Linked DNA regions of Homo sapiens: region 2 is linked to region 1. The links come from fine-mapping of genetic effects on gene expression. A gene starts in region 1. The other region holds a variant in brackets. All regions are shown on one strand. Distances are from middle to middle.

Region 1 (11,585 bases):
TGCTTCTGCTACCCTGTTAAGCGAAAAAAGCAGGATACAAAATTGCATAGGCAGTAAGATTTCAGCTATGCAAAAGAAACTTGAAATTAGCAAAGAGAAAATGACTAAAAGGGAATACACCCGGTGTTCACTGGGCTGACTGGCTCCCCTTTGAACTTCAGGTGAGTATAAGATGACCAGACACTCCCTGACATGTCCCAGAAGGTTTGATTTTCACTCTCTGAGATCTCTTCTTTCTCTTACTCTGAATGGCTGGCAACTGCATTCTTCATTGAGAAAACAGAAGTGGGCCAGGCACAGTGGCTCATAACTGTAATCCCAGCACTTTGGGAGGTCGAGGTGGGTGGATCACTTGAGGTCAGGAGTTTGAGACCAGCCTGCCCAACACGGTGAAATCCTGTCTCTACTAAAAATACAAAAGTTAGCCAGGCATGATGGCGGGCACCTGTAGTCCCAGCTACTTGTGAGGCTGAGGCAGGAGAATTGCTTGAACCCAAGAGGTGGAGGTTGCAGTGAACTGAGATGGCATCACTGCACTCTAGCCTGGGCGGCAGAGTGACACTCCATCTCAAAAAAAAAAAAAAAAATTAGCTAGGCGTGGTGGCACGCACCTGTAATCCCAGCTACTCGGGAGGCTGAGGCAGGAGAATCATTTGAGCTTGGGAGGTGGAGGTTGCAGTGAGCTGAGATCGTGCAACTGCACTCCAGCCTGGGCAACAGAGTGAGACTCTGTCTCAAAAAAAAGAAAGAAAAAAGAAAAAGCAGCAGCCGGGCATGGTGGCTCACACCTGTAATCCCAGCACTTTGGGAGGCCAAGGCAGGCAGATCTTGAGGTCAGGAGTTAGAGACCAGCCTGGTCAAAATAGTCAAACTCCGTCTCTACTAAAAATACAAAAAAAAATTAGCCAGGTGTGGTGGTGGGCGCCTGTAATCCCAACACTCAGGGGGCTGAGACAAGAGAATTGCTTGAACCTGGGAGGTGGAGGTTGCCGTGAGCCAAGATCACACCACAGCACTCCAGCCTGAGCAACACTGTCTCAAAAAAAAAAAAAAAAGGCAAGGCCCTAACTGTTCAGTGGCTCCTTGAATAACTCAGTTTAGGCCAGGCACAGTGGCTCACACCTGTAATCCCAACACTTTGGGAGGCCGAGGCGGGTAGATCACAAGGTCAGGAGATCGAGACCGTCCTGGCTAACACAGTGAAACCCCGTCTCTACTAAAAATACAAAAAAATTAGCCAGGTGTGGTGGCGGGCGCCTGTAGTCCCAGCTACTCTGGAGGCTGAGGCAGGAGAATGGCGTGGACCTGGGAGGTGGAGCTTGCAGTGAGCCAAGATCGCGCCACTGCACTCCAGCCTGGGCGACAGCTCTGTCTCAAAAAAAAAAAAAAAAAAAAAAAAAGAATAACTCAGTTTAAAGGCTGCCTCCTTGGCTGGGTGCAGTGGCTCACACCTGTAATCCCAGCTCTTTGGGAGGCCAAGGTGGGCAGATCACAAGGTCAGGATATCGAGACCATCCTGGCCAGCATGGTGAAACCCCCGTCTCTACTAAAAATACAAAAATTAGCTGGGCATGGTGGCGCATGCCTGTAATCCCAATTACTTGGGAGGCTGAGGCAGGAGAATCGCTTGAACCCAGGAGGCAGAGGTTGGAGTGAGCCAAGATTGCACCACTGCACTCCAGCCTGGCAACAAAGCTAGGCTCCATCTCAAACAAAAAACAAAAAACAAAAACAAAAACAAAAAAGGCTGCCTTCTCTGAGAGGCCTTCCTGACTCCCCTATTTAATGAGGTTTCCCGACCGATTCCTCTAATTTTCCCATAGCCAGTTGCTTGTTTTTTAATCTGTATAATGAAAAAACAAAACAAAACAACTTTAGTTTAAAAGGAAAAAACACACCTCCTCTTGGAAGCTTTCCAGGAGTGAGTCTCCATTCAGTTTTCATCACGTTGGTCAATTTAGCAGCTTGAATGGGAGAAATGAAACCGTTTTTCTACTTGGGTAATCAGCATCTTCACTTCCTATGTTATATAATTCTTACAAGGTAATGCTTCAGTCTCTTTTGAGTAGCGCTTTCTGCAGCACACACTGTGTGTCTGTGCTGGGCACTTCGCAGCCCAATAGGGTACCACAACAGGCCCTGGAATTGGGCAGCTCTGGGTTCAAGTCAATCCCAGCCCTGCCACATCCAAGCTGTGTGACCTTGGTCACACATTCCAGCTACCCAGTGTTATGTAACAAATGACCCCAAAACTTAGTGGCCGAAAACAACAATACTTATTTTGCAGTTTGGGCAGGGTTGGTGAGACAGCTCATTTCTGCTCCACTTGTCCACTGGGGCAGCTCCAAGTCTGGGGGCTGAATCATCTGCAGGCTCACTCTCTCACATGTCTGGTGGTTAGTGGGGACCAGAGCTGGAGTTGTTGGCTAGATCACCTTCATGCGGTCTCCCCATGAGGCCTGGGCTTCCTCCTATCATGGTGGGTGAGTGGCCAGAGAGACAGAGAGAGAGAAAGAGAGAGAGAAGCAAGCTGGGTGGAATCCATGTTGCTTTTTATGACCTAACCTTGGAAGTCACAGATGAACACTTCTGCCATACTCTGTTGGTTGAGACAGTCACAAGATCTGCTGAGATTCAAGGTGGGGGCACACAGTGCCCCCACACACGTGCCGCACACATGTGCCGCTCAATTGGAGGAGCATCAGTGTCACATTGTAAGAAGAGCAATTGGGATGAGATATACCCTTTGGAAAATATTAATCAGTCACAAGAAGTATCTTCACCTTTTGGAGATCCTTTACTGAAATGTGGAGCACAGAGCCCGGCACACAGGAAGAGGCCACGCATCACACAGCTGCAGGATGTGCCGGCGCAAGGACGGTCACCCCGTCTACAATGTAGCCAGTTCTGGACTCTCAACAAGTCTTATCTCCTTTGTGGTATCCCTGGTCTGAACTGACCCTGAGTCCACAGCCCCTACGTCAGCCCCACCTAGTCCCTCCCCACCAGAGCCCTGTTGTTCTCAAGGCTTCCCTGGGTCTACAATGTAGATTCTTGACTCCCCAAATCCAAAGCACCTCAGAGCAGGTGGGACCCACAGGCCCCTCCCTGGCCAGCCATGAGTGTTGGGCCCAGAGAGGATAGGTGGTAGAGCCAGGACTCAGATCCCTGCCCTAGAAGAGAGATGCAGGCCACTCTAATCTCAGGACCACTGATGTGACCAAGGGTGTGTCAGGAGTGGCTGAGCCAGCCTGGTCTGCTATGTCCCTGCATTCACACCACCCAACACCTCCAAACCTATGTTCTGCACAGGGGCAGAAACTGAAGCACAGAGAGAGGACACACTTTCCAAGAGCTTCACAGCATCTTTCTGTGCCAGACTAGATGCAGCCTACTAGAGCCAGGGGCATCTGAGCTGGATGGACCCTGTCATCTGTTACATTAGACCAGAGCAGGTGGGGACTCTGAGGCCCGGAATGTGGGAAGGCCTGCCCTGGGTCACTAGCCTGCGGCTCCCACATCCTTCTCCAGCACTCCTGCCCACATGCCATGCCACCCTGTTTGTGCTGAGTCTTTTGTGGTCCCCCCCAACACACACTGTGTGCTCCATGAGTTCAGGCACTGACATGCCCACCACTGCGTCCCTCAGTGTACCTGGCGCCTGTGCAAACAGGGTTTGTGGACAGTCAGTGGGCCGTGAGGGGAGCTGGTGTCTTGCTAGGAGGGGGTGGGGATGCCCCTGCGGAAGTGTTTGCCAAGAGCCTGCTGAGTGCCTGCTCCTCACTTGGCCGTATGGAGGGCACCTAGCGTTGGGGTGGAGGAGCACTCACTCACCTGGATCCAGATGAAGTCATGCCTCTGGAGAGAGGGGATGCCCCAGGAGTGTATTCACAGCGTGTGGGGGAGGTGGGACAGAGACAAAGAAGTGGACCTGGTGCCTGCTGTGTCACAGGCAGGTGCAGAGGTGAAGGAAGGGAATTGGGGGAGGAAGAAGAAGGAGAAAATGGGCAGGAGGAAGAAGAGGGGAAAGAGGAGGAAAAGGAAGACTTGGAAAAGGAGGGGGGAAAGGAAGGGGAAAGATGGGAGAAGAAGGAGGAAGAAAGAGCAGGGGATAAATGGGAGGGGGAGGAGAGAACAGGAGGAGAAAGAGGTTGTAAAGGGGCAAAAACAGCCCTGCCCTTCTGGTGGCAAGGGGTGTGGGGCACCCTAAGGACGAGGGTACATCTGTGGGGCAAAGCACTCAATCCAGCTCTGCCCTGCGGTGGCTCAGGGATGGGGGCGTAGCGGCCAGGCGGTGTGGGGGCTGGGGAAGGTGTGAGAGACATGGGAAAATCAACACGGCCAGGAGCCAAGGAGACGCCCAGACGCCCGGGAGGAAAGAAAACACGCCCATCAGAGCTCAAGTCCTCCTGCACTGCTCCTGGTGGGGACGTGTGGGGTCAGGGCAACCGTCCCAGCCCATGCCAGCCCCCACGGGGGCCAAAACCGCCTTCCAAAGCATCCGCTAGGCTGACATCTCGTAATAGGTCCCCTCCATTTTATTTTTGTTTTTATTTATTTGTTTATTTTTTTGAGATGGAGTCTAGCTCTGCCACCCAGACTGGAGTGCAGTGGCGCGACCTCGGCTCACTGCAACCTCCGCCTCCCGGGTTCAAGCGATTCTCCTGCCTCAGCCTCCCGAGTAGCTGGGATTACAGGCACGCGCTACCACGCCCGGCTAATTTGTGTATTTTTAGTAGAGACGGGGTTTCATCATGTTGGTCAGGCTGGTCTCGAACTCCTGACCTCGTGATCCACCCGCCTCGGCCTCCCAAAGTGCTGGGATTACAGGCATGAGCCACCGCGCCTAGCTACGGGTCGCTTCCATTTTAGCCGTACAGAGCCTGAAACCCGGGTCGGGGGCGCATGGGGAGAAATATCCGCCGGTCAAGGTGCGCGAGCCAGGCATGCACACAGGGCTTCACGGTCCCTATGCCAGGAGAGGGAAGCCGAGGCAGGGGGAGCCCGAGCGCGCCCGGGAGGTGTGAGCTTTGGGTCCCATCGGCGCCGCCTAGACCGTGAGCTTGGCGCGTGCACCCCAGGCTTCAGTTTACGCATCTGTGCGATGGGATCGCGGCTCCGGCGATGCCGGCTAAGGGGGCGGAGTTCGCGCACGCTCGGCACGGGGCGAGGGGCGAGGCGCTGGGCGTGCATGGATGCGGGTTCCTGCGAACTGAGGTCCGCCCGGCCTCGGCCCGGGAGTCCCGGCTCCCGCCGCTCTCGCAGGCCCTGCCCGGACGCCGGGCGCAGGGGCGCCTCCGCCGGGTGCCTTCCCCGAGCGGGCAGGGGAGGAGGCGGCGGAGCGGAGGAGGAGGGAGCCCGGGCCGCGGCTGCCCGCGCCAGCCTGACCCTCGAAGGGGTCGCTGTTGCCTCGCAGATCCCTCCCTCGCTCCCTGCCTGCGTCCCTCCCTGCCGCTCCCGCCGCGTCCGCCTTTTGTTCGCGGAACCGCGCGCCCCCGAGCCGAGGCGGCGGGGCGGGGAGCTGGCGGGGCTGCGCGGGGGGCGGGCTGCGCCGGGCGGAGCCGGGGCCCGGGCCGCAGCCGGACTCGGAGCCCGAGGGAGCGATCGGCGTGCGGGCGGCGGGGGCCCGGGCGCGCTCCGGGGGCGCGGCGAGGCCGAGGGGGCGGGCGCCGGGCGGAGCCGCAGCCGGAGCCGGGGCGCCTGGAGGCGGTCGGGCCGCACTCTCCGAGCCCAGAGCAGCGGAGAGACCGCGCGGCGGGGCTTGGGACGGGGACGCGGTGTCGGGGCCGAGGTGGGCCGAGAGCAGCCGCAGCCCCAGCGGCCGGAGCCGCGCCGGGTCCCTCCCCAGGGACGTCGAGGCCGGGCGGGCCTGGGCCATGCGCGCAGCTCGCTGAGGCCGAGGGAGGCCGCGATGGAGGCGCCGGCGGCCGAGCCCCCGGTCCGGGGCTGCGGTCCCCAGCCCGCGCCTGCACCCGCGCCTGCCCCGGAGAGGAAAAAGAGCCACCGCGCGCCGTCGCCGGCCCGGCCCAAAGACGTGGCCGGCTGGTCGCTGGCTAAGGGCCGCCGCGGCCCAGGCCCGGGCTCAGCAGTCGCCTGCAGCGCCGCGTTCTCCTCACGGCCGGACAAGAAGGGGCGCGCAGTGGCTCCCGGGGCGCGCGGTGCGGGTGTGCGGGTGGCCGGGGTCCGCACCGGGGTCCGTGCCAAGGGCCGTCCGCGCTCGGGTGCGGGGCCGCGACCGCCACCGCCGCCCCCCAGCCTCACGGATAGCAGCTCGGAGGTGTCGGACTGCGCGTCGGAGGAGGCGCGCCTGCTGGGCCTGGAGCTGGCGCTGAGCAGCGACGCCGAGTCCGCGGCCGGGGGCCCGGCGGGGGTCCGTACGGGGCAGCCGGCCCAGCCCGCGCCCTCCGCGCAGCAGCCCCCGCGGCCGCCCGCCTCCCCGGACGAGCCGTCGGTGGCCGCGTCGTCGGTGGGCAGCAGCCGCTTGCCGCTCAGCGCCTCGCTTGCCTTCTCCGACCTCACCGAGGAGATGCTGGACTGCGGGCCCAGCGGCTTGGTGCGGGAGCTGGAGGAGCTGCGCTCGGAGAACGACTATCTCAAGGTGGGGGCGCCCGGGTAGAAAGGGAGGTCGCAGGGGTCGCCGGCTGTCACAGTCCCGCGGGCCTGAGGCACCAGCCGGCCCTCCTTCCCACTGAACAATCCGGAGAAAGGGGCCCAAGCCCTCTGGGGACCACTCTGAGGTGGATCTGGGGCTCCCTCATTCCCCCCGCCCCCTCTCAACTTTATTTGGGAAGCGCGCTCCTGAAAAAGACCTTGGAACTGGCTACAGGGCCCTAACCTGGGAGCGGGGACTTGAGAAAGCTTTGGAGCGTTCTGGGAGGCGTTGCTGAGGTGGGGGTGGGTAGCCAGGGAAGGGATGGATCTCTGCCTTCAGCTGCCCAGAACCTCCACGCCCAGGCTCTCCTTCTTGGGACGGGATTGATAGACACCGCCGCCAGGGAAACCTGTGGCCATCCCCTGCCCAGGAAAGGCCTGAATGCCATCCTGAGTCGTTACCCAGGGCTTTCCCGGGCGCAGGCCTGTCTCTGCCTGCCTTTCTGGGCGGGTCCAGTTTGAAAGCATGACATCTGGGAACATCCCCTTGGCTGGAGTCCACTTCCGCCCAGCCTAACGGTCCCACAGCCTGGAGGATGATGTCGTGGGAGAACCGGTTCAGAGGCAGCTTCCTAAATCCCAGGACAGTGTCTTTTGCCCTCCCTGGGGCAGACCTTGTGCACACAACAGCCCCATTGGCCCCTCGTGGCCAGTGCCTTTCCATGTTCGCAGTGAGAGGAGGGCAACTGCCCACCTGGAACAGGACTTCCCTGTGGCCATGTGGGGACCCTAGGGCTTCCCCCGGACAGCAGGCTTTGCCTTTGCTTTTTCAGTGGACATGAGCACCTACTGGGTGCCAGCCGGGCTCCATCTGCACGCTTCCAGGTGCCATGGCAGCTTTAGGGACAGCCCAGCTTGCACGTGTTGACCTCTCCCTGGGAGGCTGGAAGCTTCCTGAGCTCTCCTGCCGCTGGCTGGGCACGGTTTTGGAGGAGGCTGAAATGTTGCCGACTCTTGTCAGTGGATGATGGCCTGGCACAACACCCAGAGTGCCCCTGGCTGTGGAGCTCACAGCATGCTGCTGGTTTATGTCTGCCCTCAGCACTTAGGTTTTAACTTTTCCTTGTGGCTCTTCTGACCAAATGGGCTTCTCCCTCATTAGAGTGTTGGTGTCTTGCTCAACTATGTCTCTGTCTCCCCATTTTCCCCGGGATCTGCTCTCCAGCCTGAGTTCTGTAAATGCTTGTAGTATGGAAGGACAAGGTCTGTCTGAATCAAGAGACACCTTTCCCCAAGCCAGGCCTCAGTCTCCTCATCCGTTAAATGGGAGGATGTCTTCCCAAGGGCCGGGTTCGGTGTTGGCAACTGGGAGTTCAGTCGGCTCTTTGAGTCTTCAGAAGCCGGTGGTAAGGAGAGGGCAAGTGGAAGGTGAGGAGGAGGAGGGAGGTGACGAGCCAGGACAAGGGTCTTTTGCTCCTGCCCTCTTGGTGCTCTGAGCTGCTTCCAGTGAGTGCTGCCTGAATTGGCCTTAACCGAAACTCTGAGTTCCTCACCCCTGCCTCCCGGTTCCTGCTACTCACTCTGGTGAAGGGGGATGGGTTGCAGAGCTTTGCTTCAGGGCTCCTAGGCACCCATCTCCATGGGCCCCTGTCCATCCCAGGAAGTCATCAGGCTCTGACCCAAAGTCTGTTTGAGGCACCCATGACTGTTTAAAGGGGAAAACAGTCCCAGGAGGCTGGGGGTTGAGCCCGGGATCTCACAGGGGCCGGGGTCCAGCTGGGGACATCCCACGTTTGGGCCAAGATGGAACCGTAATTTCCACCATTCATTCAGTGGCTCAGGCTTCGTGCTGCTATTGGATCTGGGGTCTGTCGCTTCCTGACGGCGTGATCTTTGGCAAGTTACTTAAAGGCCCTGGACCTTTGCTTTCTCATTTGTAAAAATGGGACAGTAACACGCTTTCCAACCTCAACGGTTAAATGAGCTGATTCCTGCAAACACCATTAGAGCACCTGGTATGTAGTAAACCTCTGATCACTGCTCTTGTCAGAGGCACGGGACATGTTTCCATGTGCACCCAGCCTGTTCTCTTGTGGATTCTGTGAGGGCAGAATAGATCCTCTTCATCACCCAAGGCAGGCTGGGCTCTTTCTCCTGGCCCCTCATTGGTTCATTCGGCAGCTGTTTATTTAGAACCTGCCGTGTGCTAGGGCAGATCTGGGATACAGCTGTGGACAAGGGAGGATGAGGTGTCTGTTTTCATAGAGCTTTTGGGGAGACCAGAATTAAACAATAGTCATACAAGAAATCACAACACAGATCATAATGAGGGTAAAGGGGACAGTTTGCCAGGAGCACACGAAGGTGGGGGCTGGGGTGCACAGGGAGGCTGAGGGCTGCAGGATGCCGTGGAGCCAACTGAGTGAGGGTCTGGAGTAAGAAGATTTCAGGCTAAGGGAAATTGGAATGCTCGTTGAGTTCAAGAACAGCGCTAAGGCCAGAGAGGGGAAGGAGTGTGGGTAAGAGAGGAGAGCAAGGCCAGCCCATGCCACTTCTCACTGTGTACATTTGGGTTAGTCCCTTAACTTCTCTGTATATCTGTTTATCCCAGCCGCCAGCCTCACAGAGGCAGGGTCAAAATCCAGAGACTAAATGTGGACCATAAATAGAGGGGTTATTACTGGAGGTGTTGTGTTGTTTATTCCACAGATGGGAAAACTGTGGCCAGAGTGGGTCCCAGAGCAGGGTCGCTAGGCTGCCAGGGCTTGGAGTAAGCATGTGTTAGACTCTTGATGTGTTTTCTGCCTTTCTGGACTACTTTGCCTCTAAGATGCAGAAACTGAGTACAAGGGAAAGGACTCCAAATCCCCAGTATGTCCCCTGCAGGAGCAGAGTTGAAGGAGGTCCCACCAGGTCTGGTGGGTGGCCCTGCTCAGGCTTACCTCCCCCTTGTAGGGGTCACTGGGAACTGTCAACTGCGAAGGACTGTGATCTCCAGTCTGGTATGGTCTGCTCTGGGGTCCAAGTGAGGAAAGCATAAATCGGGCAACTCTCTCCCAGTGAGAAGATAGAAGGAGCTTCTACAGAGAAGGTAGTGAGCTCACTGTCACTTTAATTATTCAGAGAGAGGCGGGATGACCTTGCATGCTTGGATAAAGATAGAGGGTTTGTGGAATGATTGCTTGAGAAGGGTTCAGAGGGAGATTGATGTGGTGGCTGCAGTTGAGCTGCCTGACCTTGGGTCCCTTCTAGCCAAGGAAGTCTGAAGGTTATTAACTACTGAGGTGCCAGGATTCTAAGATGCAGCTTTAGCTGCCGAGCAGACACGTCACCTGAGACCTTCAAAGACCCGGTGATCTGAGGTCTTCCAGCCTTTCATCACCACTAACCATTAAGCACGTACCATGTGGCCAGAACATGTAGGAACCCACTGGGTGTGGATGGAGGAATCTGAGAGTTGGAGTCTGAAGACCTGACTTTGAAACCTGACTCTCCCGTTTACTGTGTGGCCATGGGCAAGTTACCTGGCTTCTCTGAGCTGCTTTTTTTCTCATCTGTATAATAAAGGTGATGGGGCCTGGCGCAGTGACTCACGCCTGTAATCCCAGCACTTTGGGAGGCCAAGGCGGGCGGATCACCTAAGGTCAGGAGTTCGAAACCAGTCTGGCCAACGTGGCGAAACCCCATCTCTACTAAAAATACAAAAATTACCCAGGCGTGGTCGTGGGCGCCTGTAATCCCAGCTACTCAGGAGGCTGAGGCAGGAGAATCACTTGACCCTGGGAGGCAGAAGTTGCAGTGATCCGAGATGGCGCCACTGCACTCTAGCCTGGGCAACAGAGTGAAACTCTTGTCTCAAAAAAAAATAAGTAAAGGTGATGGAACCTGCCTGGACAACCTCATACGATGGTCATCAGGAATCAGGGAAGTGTGAATAGACAAGAAAACATTTTGCAAGCAGTGAACCCAAGTCGCCTGAGGAATTGTTATTATTCATAGCCAATAGGCAGACAGGATGTCTGTGTCTTCATTCTTGGAGGAACTGGGAGAATGCAGGAGGGTGGATTTCCTTAGTTTTAGAATGTTAATACATCAGTAGCTGCCCCAGGGAGAACGGAAAGGTGTGATCACCTTCCCTGCCGTGTGTGTGTGTGTGTGTGTGTGTGTGTGTGTGTGTGTGTGTGTGTGTGTGTGTGTGTGTTTTCCCTCCTTGGTGATTCTAGATGTGAGTGAAGTGCAGCCAGTGTGTGTGTGTGTGTGTGTGTGTGTGTTTTCCCTCCTTGGTGATTCTAGATGTGAGTGAAGTGCAGCCAGTGTGTGTGTGTGTGTGTGTGTGTGTGTGTGTGTGTGTGTTTTCCCTCCTTGGTGATTCTAGATGTGAGTGAAGTGCAGCCAGTCTAGATGTCAGCTCAGAAGGGCCTGGAGGAAGCACCTAATCCATCCCCACTTGCCATTTTACAGATCAGTAAATGGAGGCTCTAAATTACATAGCCAGGATTCCAACCCAGGTTTGTCTAACTCTGGGCCTGTTCTTTCTGCAGTGTGACCAGAGCAGTGAGCTTTTGGTTGTTAACTAGCGTGTCTAGGCTGAGACACATTTGGTGAGAGGAATCCTGTCATGGGCCAGGCTCTAGGCTAAGGCATGCTGGGGGCCCGGAGCCTGGGGGAGGTGGGGGTTAGTGGAGGATGTTTGTGTGTGCATGTGTGTGAGATTGTTCCTTCTGTAACATGGGGGACAAGCACGCCCGCCCAGGGCCGTGAGGACCCTTTTCAATGTGAGGACGCAGATGGAGTGCACAGTGAGTGTTAGTGTGTCCCAGTCATTGCCGATCCCTTATCCGTTCCTCCAGGCATTCATTCATTCATTCAACACATATTTCCCCAGTGGCTCCTGGGTACCAGGCCCTGTGCTGGGTGTCTGGACCCAGTGGCCACGTAGTAGGCTTCTGCATGTAGCTCTTCTCTTCTTGGCTCCCAGGAGCTACAGGGGGAGG
Region 2 (11,585 bases), 860 kb after region 1:
TTAACACACTTTAAGAGATAAGATGAACAGCAGAGAGCTCAAGTCACCCAGAAAAAGGTTAAAGCTTGGATTTGAACTCAGGTCTCTTGGATTCATTCCATTAACAGACCATATTTATCCCGGCCTTCAAACTGGGCTTTCAAATTGGGGCAGAGTCAGCAATAAGAGATAAATGGATGACTGGTCATGGAACTTTGGACAAGTCATATAAGCATCAGAGCCCTCTCATAGAACTATTGTAAGAATTACAGGCTGTGCATGGTAGTTCACATTTGTAATCCCAGCACTTTGGGAGATCAAAGTAGAGGATCACTTGAGCCCAGGAGTTCAAGACCAGCCTAGGCAACATGGCAAGACCTCATCTCTACAATAAATTAAAGAATTAGCCAGGCATGCTGGTGCACACCTGTAGCTCTAGCAACTGGGGACACTGAGATGGAAGGATTGCATGAGCCCAGGAAGTTGAGGCTGTAGTGAGCTGTGTTTACAACACTGTGTGCAGTCTGGGCAACAGTAAGACTTTGCCTCAAAAAAAAGAATTGCAGATAAAGTATGTGATATGCCTAGCACAGCACCGACATATAATAGGCCCTCCATGAGAGTTATTTAAAAAGATCACCAAGAGCCAGTTGCAGTGGTGCACACCTGAGTCCTAGCTACTCAGGAGGCTGAGGTAGGAGGATTGCTTGAGCCTAGGAGCTCAACTTCAGCCTGGGCAACATAGAAAGACCTCATCTCTTAAAATGAAATTTAAAAAAACTCGAAGGAAATATAATTCAGAAATAAAAAGGAGCAAACTACTCAGCATGCTAAGTAAAAGAAGCCAGAAACAAGAGTCCATACTGTATGATCTTATTTATTTATTTATTTATTTATTTATTTTTGAGAGGATTCTCACTCTGTCGCCCAGGCTGAAGTGCAGTGGTGCGATCTCTGCTCACTGCAAGCTCCACCTCCCAGGTTCATGCCATTCTCCTGTCTCAGCCTCCTGAGTAGCTGGGACTACAGGCGCCCACCACCACGCCCAGCTAATTTTCTGTATTTTTAGTAGAGACAGGGTTTCACCATGTTAGTCAGGATTGTCTCAATCTCCTGACCTCATGAGCCACCTGCCTCGGCCTCCCAGAGTGCTAGGATTACAGGCATGAGCCACCATGCCTGGCCTGTATGATCTCATTTATATGAAACCATAGGAAGACAAATCTAACCTATAATGATAGAAAACAAATCAGTGGTTGCCTAGGGCAAGGGTGAGGGGTAGAGATTGACTGGGAGGCGGCACAAGGGAACTTTGTGGGGTGATGGAAATGTTCTATAACTTGATTGTAGAGGTATAAATTTGTCATGGAACTATGGCCAGGCGCAGTGGCTCACGCCACTGTAATCCCACGCTTTGGAAGGCCAAGGCAGGAGGATCGCTTGAGCTCAGGAGTTCGAGACCAGTCTGGGCAACATGGCAAACCCCCGTCTCTACAAAACATACAAAAATTAGCAGGGTGTGGTGGCATGTGACTGTAGTCCCAGCTACTCAGGAGGCTAAAGTGGTAGGATTACTTGAGTCTGGGAGGTCAAGGTTGTATTGAGCCATGTTCATGCCACTGCACTCCAGACTGGGTGACAAAGTGAAACCTTGTCTCAAAAAGAATTTTTTTTCTAATTTGTCATTTAACTATACACATAAAATATGTGCACTCTATTATATAAAAATTATACGTCAAGAACATTGATTAAAAAAGAGATCTCCAGCCGGGTGTGGTGGCTCATGCCTATAATCCCAGCACTTTGGGAGGCCGAGGCGGGCAGATCAAGAGGTCAGGAGTTCGAGACCAGCCTGGCCAACATGGTGAAACCCCATCTCTACTAAAGATACAAAAAATTAGCTGGGCATGGTGGTGCATGCCTGTAATCCCAGCTACTCCAGAGGCTGAGGCAAGAGAATTGCTTGAACCTGGGAGGCAGAGGTTGCAGGGAGCCAAGATCGTGCCACTGCACTCCAGCCTGGGTGACAGGGCAAGACTCTATCTCAAAAAAAAAAAGAAAAAAAAAATCTCTAGTATGAGAATCAACTCTTCAAATTAATGTCTTTTGTTTGTTTTGTTTTGTTTTTGTTTTTTTGTTTTTGAGATGGAGTATTGCTCTGTCACCTAGGCTGGAGTGTAGTGGCTTGATCTCGGCTCACTGCAAGCTCCACCTCCCAAGTTCACACCATTCTCCTGCCTCAGCCTCCCAAGTAGCTGGGACTACAGGCGCCCGCCACCATGCCCGGCTAATTTTTCTGTATTTTTATTAGAGACAGCGTTTCACCGTGTTAGCCAGGATGATCTCGATCTCCTGACCTCGTGATCCGTCTACCTCGGCCTCCCAAAGTGCTGGGATTACAGGTGTGAGCCACCATGCCCGGCCCCTCAAATTAATGTTAATGGGAATAAATCCAAGTTCCACAAGCAGTAGGTCTGGCTTAACAAAACACATATAAAAAGCCCTGAGTTTGATCTTTCGGAAAGGCACTTCAACAACATCTACCAATGTTTTAAATGTATGTAGTCAGTATGCACTGGATTAACTATTTCAGGGGTCCCCAATCCCCTGGCCATGGACTGGTACAGGTCCGTGGCCTGTTAGGAATGAGGCTGTACAGCAGGAGATGAGTGGCAGGTGCATGAGCATTATCACCTGAGCTCCACCTCCTGTCAGATCAGTGGCGGCATTAGAGTCTCATAGGAGCACAAACCCTATTGAGAACTGTGCATGAGAGGCATCTAGGTTGTGTGCTCCATCTAATGCCTGATGATCAGAGGTGGAACAGTTTCATTCCAAAAGCGTTACCACCTGCCCCCATCTGTGAAAAAATTGTCTTCCACGAAACCAGCCTCTGGTGCCAAAAAGTTTGGGGACCGCTGAACTATTTGATCCAGTAATTCTCAGAATTTGTCTAATACGTTTCCTTGCACACAGATGCAAAGACAAACACACCAGGAAATCTGCCACAGTAGGGTAAACATTTGAAAAAGAATTCAAAATATCTGTAAAAGGTAATTAAATTAATTATGATATATGCATATAATAGAATAAAACTCAACTATTAAAAACATAGATCTAGACTTCTGCTTTTGCTTCCAGCCAAGATGGAATAACAGGGACTAAATTTTCTCTTCTACTTGAAAATATTGGACAACATTTATGGAAAAAATTGTTTTAAAGACATTGAAGGATAGATGCGGTGGCTCATGCCTGTAATCTCAGCACTTTGGGAGGCTGAGGTGGGAAGATCCCTTGAGGCCAGGAGTTCAAGACCAGCCTGAGCAACATAGTGAGACTCTATCTCTACAAAAAGATAAAAAATTAGGTGGGTGTGGTGGCTCATGCCTATAGTCCCAGCTACTCAGGAGAGGCGAGAGGACTGCTTGAGCCCAGGAGGTCCAGGCTGCAATTAGCTATGAACAGGTCACTGCACTCCAGCCTAGGTGACAGAGTGAGACCCTGTCTCAAAAAAAAAAAAAGACATTGAATATCAGGCAATAAAGGACAATCATCCATGATGCAAGACAGAAAACAAATGAGGTGAGCCCTACTACTGCCCCAGCATGCTGCCTAAAGATTTTCTGGGCCATGGTGCAGGGAGGGGGAACTCAGATGGAGCCCAGCAATCTCCTTGAATTGATGAGACAGAAGACATAGTCAGGGGAGGGCAAGGCAGCTAGAGTCCACAGAGCAGGGAACCAGAGAGAAGAGAGCTGCATAGAGACAGAACTCCAAAGATCTGCAGAGAGTTTCCCCTGAAGCTCAGCTGAGTATTAATCAGCACATGTGTATTGGGAAACTACCAGTGGTAGGCAGCCTCTGAGATGGCCACCAGTGAACCCCACCTCCTACTAGTCACACACTTGTGTAATACCCTCCCATTAAGTGTGGGTTGGGCTCACGTCTAACAGGATACAGCAGAAGTGATGAGATTTTATTTCTGACATTAGGTTATAAAAAAACTGTGGCTTCCATCTTGGGCATGTTCTCTGTTGCTCTCTCTCATTCTTGGGGAAACATGTCATGAAACTGCCCTGTAGAGACACCCATGAGGCCAGACACTTGGCCAATAGCCACGTGAGTTAGCCTGGAAGCAGGTCCCTCCCAGATGAGCCTTCAGATGAGACCACAACCCTGGCTGACAATGGCAACCTCAAGAGATTTTTTTTTTTTTTTCAGATGGAGTCCAGCTATGTTTTCCAAGCTGGTCTTGAATTCCTGGACTCAAATGATCCTCCTGCCTCAGCCTCCCAAGTAGCTGGTTCATAAGAGGTCTTGAGTCAGAAGCACCAAACTAAGCTGTGCCCAAATTTCTGACTCACAGAAATTGGGAGAAGTAAATGTCTGTTATTTTAAGTTGCTAAGTTTTGGGGCAATTTGTTACATAGTATACTACCCAAGGCTGGGGAAAGAATCACCCCAAATGATTAGAGGGATAAATCATCAGAGCTCAAACAGGACCAGAAATAGTCCTTTTCCCAATAACTAGAATAGAAAACCTCTCAAGTCATGGGGCATTCTGAAATACACAAAATGGTTTTACTTCACGAATGGGAAACTAGCTCTAGATTAAACACTGTTCTGACCCCACATAACAAATTTAAAAGCAAGCCTTGAAAAGATCAAAATACTTCCAAGTAACTACATCTTAACGTTCAGAAATATTTACAGGAATAAAAAATATGCAGTACTCAAAATTCACATTTTCTAGCATCCTATTAAAAAATCATGAAGGATACAAAGAAGTAGGAAAATATAAACTATATGAAAAGGAAACAATGGATTGAAACTGACTCAGAAATGACACATATGATGGAATTAGTACATAAGGGCATTGGAAGAGCTATTATAATTATATTCCAAGGAAAAAATATTGTGTATATTAAGTAGAGTTGTGGAAATTATAAAAAGACCCAAATCAAACTTTGAGATATAAAAACTAAAATGTCTAAAATGAAAAGTACACTAGGTGGGATTAACAGCAGATTAGACAATGCAGAAGGAGGATTAGAAAACTTGAAGACATAGCAATAGAAACTATCCAAAATGTCACAGAGGAAAAAAAAAAGAATAAAAAAAATGAACAGAACATCAGTGAGCTGTGAAACACAGCAATCCAATATACATGTTGCAATCCAATAATATATTGGATTGTAAGCAATCCAATATACATGTAATTGGAGTTCTCAAAGTGGAGGAGAGGGAGAGACAAATAATTTTTTTGAAAAAATCATGGTCAAAATATTCCAAATCAGATTTTAAAAATACAAACCCAGGAATCCCAGAAACTAAATGAACCTCAAGCACAGAAACATGACAAAAATTATACCAAGGCACAACATAATCAAATTGCTTAAAACTATTGATAAAAAAATTCAAAATCAGCCAAAGCAAAAAGGTACACTGTGTACAGAAAATATACAAGGTTATATAAAGAGTTTATACAAAAATAAAAATGTTGGCCAGGTGCAGTGGCTTATGCCTGTAATCCCAGCACTTTGGGAAGCCAAGGCAGGTGGATCACTTGAGGTCAGGTGTTTGAGACCAGCCTGGCCAACATGGCGAAACCCCATCTCTACTAAAAATACAAAAATTAGGCTCTCCCTCTCCCTCTCCTTCTCCGTCTCCCTCTCCCCACGGTCTCCCTCTCCCTCTCCCTCTTTCCACGGTTTCCCTCTGCTGCCCAGCCGAAGCTGGACTGTACTGCTGCCATCTCGGCTCACTGCAACCTCCCTGCCTGATTCTCCTGCCTCAGCCTGCCAAGTGCCTGCGATTGCAGGCGCGCACCGCCACGCCTGACTGGTTTTCGTATTTTTTTGGTGGAGACGGGGTTTCGCTGTGTTGGCCGGGCTGGTCTCCAGCTCCTAACCGCGAGTGATCCGCCAGCCTTGGCCTCCCGAGGTGCCGGGATTGCAGACGGAGTCCGGCTCACTCAGTGCTCAATGGTGCCCAGGCTGGAGTGCAGTGGCGTGATCTCAGCTCACTACAACCTCCACCACCCAGCCGCCTGCCTTGGCCTCCCAAAGTGCCGAGAGTGCAGCCTCTGCCCGGCCGCCACCCCGTCTGGGAAGTGAGGAGCGTCTCTGCCTGGCCGCCCATCGTCTGGGACGTGAGGAGCCCCTCTGCCTGGCTGCCCAGTCTGGGAAGTGAGGAGCGTCTCTGCCCGGCCGCCATCCCATCTAGGAAGTGAGGAGCGCCTCTTCCCGGCCGCCATCCCATCTACGAAGTGAGGAGCGTCTCTGCCCGGCCGCCCATCGTCTGAGATGTGGGGAGCGCCTCTGCCCCGCCACCCCGTCTGGGATGTGAGGAGCGCCTCTACCCGGCCGCGACCCCGTCTGGGAGGTGAGGAGCGTCTCTGCCCGGCCGCCCCGTCTGAGAAGTGAGGAGACCCTCCGCCTGGCAACCGCCCCATCTGAGAAGTGAGGAGCCCCTCCGCCTGGCAGCCGCCCCGTCTGAGAAGTGAGGAGCCCCTCCGCCCGGCAGCCACCCCGTCTGGGAAGTGAGGAGCGTCTCCGCCCAGCCGGCCGCCCCGTCCGGGAGGGAGGT[G/A]GGGGGGTCAGCCCCCCGCCCGGCCAGCCGCCCCGTCTGGGAGGTGAGGGGCGCCTCTGCCCGGCCGCCCCTACTGGGAAGTGAGGAGCCCCTCTGCCCGGCCAGCCGCCCTGTCCGGGAGGGAGGTGGGGGGGTCAGCCCCCCACCCTGCCAGCCGCCCCGCCCAGGAGGTGAGGGGCGCCTCTGCCCGGCCGCCCCTACTGGGAAGTGAGGAGCCCCTCTGCCCGGCCACCACCCCGTCTGGGAGGTGTACCCAACAGCTCATTGAGAACGGGCCATGATGACAATGGCGGTTTTGTGGAATAGAAAGGGGGGAAAGGTGGGGAAAACATTGAGAAATCGGATGGTTGCCGTGTCTGTGTAGAAAGAGGTAGACATGGGAGTCTTTTCATTTTGTTCTGTACTAAGAAAAATTCTTATCCTGTTGATCTGTGACCTTACCCCCAACCCTGTGCTCTCTGAAACATGTGCTGTGTCCACTCAGGGTTAAATGGATTAAGGGCGGTGCAAGATGTGCTTTGTTAAACAGATGCTTGAAGGCAGCATGCTCGTTAAGAGTCATCACCACTCCCTAATCTCAAATACCCAGGGACACAAACACTGCGGAAGGCCGCAGGGTCCTCTGCCTAGGAAAACCAGAGACCTTTGTTCACTTATCTGCTGACCTTCCCTCCACTATTGTCCTATGACCCTGCCAAATCCCCCTCTGCGAGAAACACCCAAGAATGATCAAAAAAAAAAAAAAAAAAAATTTCATACACAAATGAAAAAAAAAAAAATTAGCCAGGCGTGGTGGTGGACGCCTATAATCCCAGCTACTCGTGAGGCTGAGGCACAAGAATACTTGAAACTGGGAGGCGGAAGTTGCAGCTAGCCGAGGTTGTGCCATTGCACTCCAGCCTGGGTGACAAGAGCAAGACTCCATCTCAGAAACCAACAACAACAACAACAAATACAAAAATTAGCCAAGTATGGTAGCATATGCCTGTAGTCCCGGCTATTCAGGAGGCTGAGGCAGGGTAATCGCTTGAACCAGGGAGGTAGAGGTTGCAGTGAGCCGAGATTACACTATTGCACTCCAGCCTGCGTAACAGAGTGAGACTCTGTCTCAAAAATATAAATAAATAAATAAATAAAATGTTAACGGACTTCTTGTTGAAAACAATAAATAAAAATATGAACGGATTTGCTGAAAACAATGCAAGTCAAAAAAGACTTTAATGCAACATCTTTAAAGTAGTGAAAGAAAAAACCTGTCAACTTAGAATTTTATATCCAGCAAAAATTTCTTTCAAAAATGAAGATAAAATAGTTTTCAGACATAGAAAAGCTGAAATAATTCATCACTAACAGAGCTGAAATACAAGAAATGTTAAAGGAAGTACTTCAGGCAGAAGGAAGTGGTTATTAGGTAGAAATCTGGATCTATACAAAGGAACAAAGAACATCAGAAATAGTAACTATGTAGGTTAACATAAGAGTCTTTTCTTATTATTTTTTAAATATACAAAAAAGATACTTGTTTAAGCTGGGTATGGTGGCTGATGCCTGTAATCCCAGCACTTTGGGAGGCTGAGGCAGGTGGATTTCCTGAGGTCAGGAGTTCAAGACCAGCCTGGCCAACATAGTGAAACCCTGTCTCTACTAAAAATACACAAAATTAGCTGGGCATGGTGGCAGGCACCTATAATCCCAGCTACTAGGGAGGCTGAGGCAGAAGAATCACTTGAACCCAGGAGGTGGAGGTTGCAGTGAGCCGAGATCGTGCCATTGCACTCCAGCCTGGGCAACAGGAGCAAAACTCCGTCTCAAAAAAAAAAAAAAAGAAGATACTTGTTTAAAGCAAAAGTAATAACCATGTATGGTAAGGTTTTTAATATACATTAAAGTATAATATATCACAATAGCATAATATCTAGGAGGAGAAAATGGAAATATATCATTGTAAGATTCTGATTCTATACATGAAGTGGTATAATATCACTTAAAGGTAGACTGTGATAAGTTAAAAGTATATACAATGATCATAAAGCAACTGTGAAAATAATACCACAAACAGCTAATAAGCCAACAAAGAAAATAAGATTGAATTATACAAAATACATAATCCAAAAGGCAGGGAAAAACAGAAGAAAAAGGGAATAGATGTGACAAATAGAAAGAAAAATAGCAAGATGGTAGAGTCAAATCCAACCATAATCAATATTAACATTAAATGTCAATGATTAGGCATCTCAATAAAAATTGGGTCTTTCAGCAAGATCCAATTATATGCTGCCTTTAAGAAATTCACTTTTACATATAAAGACACAAATAGGTTAAACACAAAAGGATGGAAAAAGATATACCAAACTAATACTAATCAAGAGGAAGCTACACTAAATCAAAAGAAGTGGCTGAATTTACATCAGAAAAAGTAGGTTTTAGAGCAAAGAATATTACCAGGGACAAATAAGTTCATTTCATAATAATTAAGAGTTCAATCCCAAACATCTATGCATATAATAAAAGAGCTTCAAAATATATGAGGCAAAACAGACAGAAATACAAGGAGAAAAATATATCTATAATTATGGCTGGAGATTTTAACAACTCTATTAAGAATTTTTTTTTTTTTTTTTTTTTTTTTTGAGAGACACAGTCTTGCTCTGTCGCTCGGACTGGAGTGCAGTGGCGTGATCTTGGCTTACTGCAACCTCTGCCTCCCGGGTTCAAGCAATTCTCCTGCCTCAGCTTCCCAAGTAGCTGGGACTACAGGCATGCGCCACCATGCCCAGCTAATTTTTGTATTATTTTGGTAGAGACAGGGTTTCACTATATGTTGGCCAGGCTGGTCTCGAACTCCTGACCTCAGGTGATCTGCCCGCCTTGGCCTCCCAAAGTGCTGGGATTACACGCGTGAACCACCACGCCAGCCTCTATTAACAATTGATAGAGCAAGTAGACAGAAAGTTATAAGGGTACAGATGACTTGACCAATACTATCAACCAACTTCACCTACTTAACATTCATAGAACACTGCACCCCAAAACAGCAAGTTTTTTTCAAATGCAAATGAAACATTTACCAAGACAGACTATATTCTGGACCATAAAACAAGTTTTAATACATTTCAGAGGATTCAAATCATATAAAGTATGTTATCTTAGAATTCAATAACAGAGGCCAGGCGTGGTGGCTCACGCCTATAATCCCAGCACTTTGGGAGGCCGAGGCAGGCAGATCACCAGAGGTCAGGAGTTCAAGCCCAGCCTGGCCAACATGCTGAAACCCCATCTCTACTAAAATACAAAAATTAGCTGGGTTTGGTGGTGCATGCCTGTAATCCCAGCTACTCGGGAGGCTGAGGCAGGAGAATTGCTCGAACCTGGGGGGTGGAGGATGAAGTGAGCTGAGATTGTACCACTGCACTCCAGCCTGGGTGACAGAGCGAGACTCCCTCTCAAAAAAAAAAAAAAAAAAAGAAAAAGAAAAAAGAAATCAGTAACAGAAAGATAGGTGGATAATCCCCCAAATGCTTGGAAACTAAACACTCTTCTAAATATTCCATGGGTCAAAGAAGAAATCAAAAGAGAAATTTAAAGGTATTTTGAACTGAATAACATTGAAAATACAACATATCAAAATTTGTGGGATGCAACTTTTTCTCTGGTGGATTGACAGTGGAAAAGTGACAAACAAGAATTGACATGAGAAGAAACATTTACTGAGTACTTATAAGGCCTCATGCATACATCATCTCACTCTGCCTTCCTAGCAGCCTGTTGTGGTAATGATAACAAACATCTGCCATCTGCCTATGCAGCCAGGTAGTGTTCTAAGAGTTTTTATATATTAATTTGCTTAATGTCATTACAATCCTACGAGGTACGGACCATTATTTACATTTTACAGACTCTGAGGGCACTGGTGCACTTAGACATAGGGCCCACTTGCCCAGTATCACATCACTAATAAGAGAAGGACCCTGTATTCAAACAGAAGCAGTGGACTCCAAGCCTATGCTGCTAACCATGACACTACCCAAGGTAGATATGAAGAAACCAGGCCCAGAGACTTTGAGTACTCACCAAAGCTACCCAGCTAATAAATGGGACTCAAACCCAGCTCTGTTCAGCTCCAACCTCTCCTTTTTCCGCCCTTCTCCTCGCCACCCTGTGTTGGCCTCAGTTCTAATCTCAGGAGGACTGCTATATCTATAAGGCAATCCTTGGGGAGGAGGCCCCAGGATACACAGATTACAATCTCAAGGGAAGTGGGGGGAAGCATGCCAGTACTGAGCAGGAGGTAAGAGATAAGACATCTGAGCCACTGCAAATATCTGTTGAGGGCTGGGGTCCTTGACCCAAGTGGGTGACACAAAAAGATCTGCAGAGGATGGAAGGGGAAAAAAATAAATAAAAATGCCATTACAGAGCTGTGAATGGAAACAATACTACCCTAGAATCAGCAAGCCTGGTTATCACCCTGGCCAGTTCTAGAGGCTGCTACTTGACAACGTCTATGTCCAACAACAGGAAATGGAGAATGAAGAAGGCTGGAGATATTTATGAAGAGAAGAAAGTCTGGGCTTTGGAACCAGTTGTGCCTGGGTTAGAATCCCAACTCTACAGTCCTACATTGCTACTTATTTGCCCTATGAGCCAGTTTCCTCATGTGTCAGATGGTACAATCGTACCTTCTTAAAGAGTTATTAGGCCAGGTGCGGTGGCTCATGCCTGTAATCCCAACACTCTGGGAGGCCGAGGCAGTCGGATCACTTAAGGTCAGGAGTTCGAGACCAGCCTGGCCAACACAGTGAAATCCCATCTGTACTAAAAAAACAAAAATTGGCCGGGCATGGTGGCATGTGCCCGTAATCCCAGCTGCTCGGGATGCTGAGGCAGGAGAATTGCCTGAACCTGGGAGGCAGAGGTTGCAGTGAGCTGAGACTGCACCACTGCACTCCAGCCTGGGCAACAGAGTGAGACTCTGTCTCCAAAAAAAAAAAAAAAACAAAAAGAGAGCTATTATGAGA

Direction of the effects. Alleles are on the strand shown, and positions count from the first base shown. SD is a standard deviation of normalised expression in the study named.
As copies of G replace A in region 2, the expression in esophagus mucosa of the gene that starts at base 5,718 in region 1 goes down (moderate effect, 0.54 SD a copy in GTEx).

Evidence for each region. PIP is the estimated chance that this variant, and not a neighbour inherited with it, causes the effect.
Region 2: its variant is fine-mapped to the expression of MTCL2 in esophagus mucosa (GTEx, PIP 0.96).

What each region holds. Positions count from the first base shown.
Region 1 is chr20:36,857,671-36,869,255 of GRCh38, reverse strand. It overlaps MTCL2 (microtubule crosslinking factor 2), which reads left to right and starts at 5,718. Exons shown (of 15, transcript NM_080627.4): 1 at 5,718-6,598. The coding sequence starts at 5,912. RefSeq lists silencers at 2,098-2,167, 5,009-5,898, 5,969-6,118 and an enhancer at 11,128-11,585.
Region 2 is chr20:35,996,487-36,008,071 of GRCh38, reverse strand. All of the region lies in intron 8 of CNBD2 (cyclic nucleotide binding domain containing 2), which reads right to left. Among named protein-coding and RNA genes, the nearest start is that of CNBD2, 34 kb to the right of the region's middle. The variant G/A (reference allele first, on the strand shown) is at 6,568.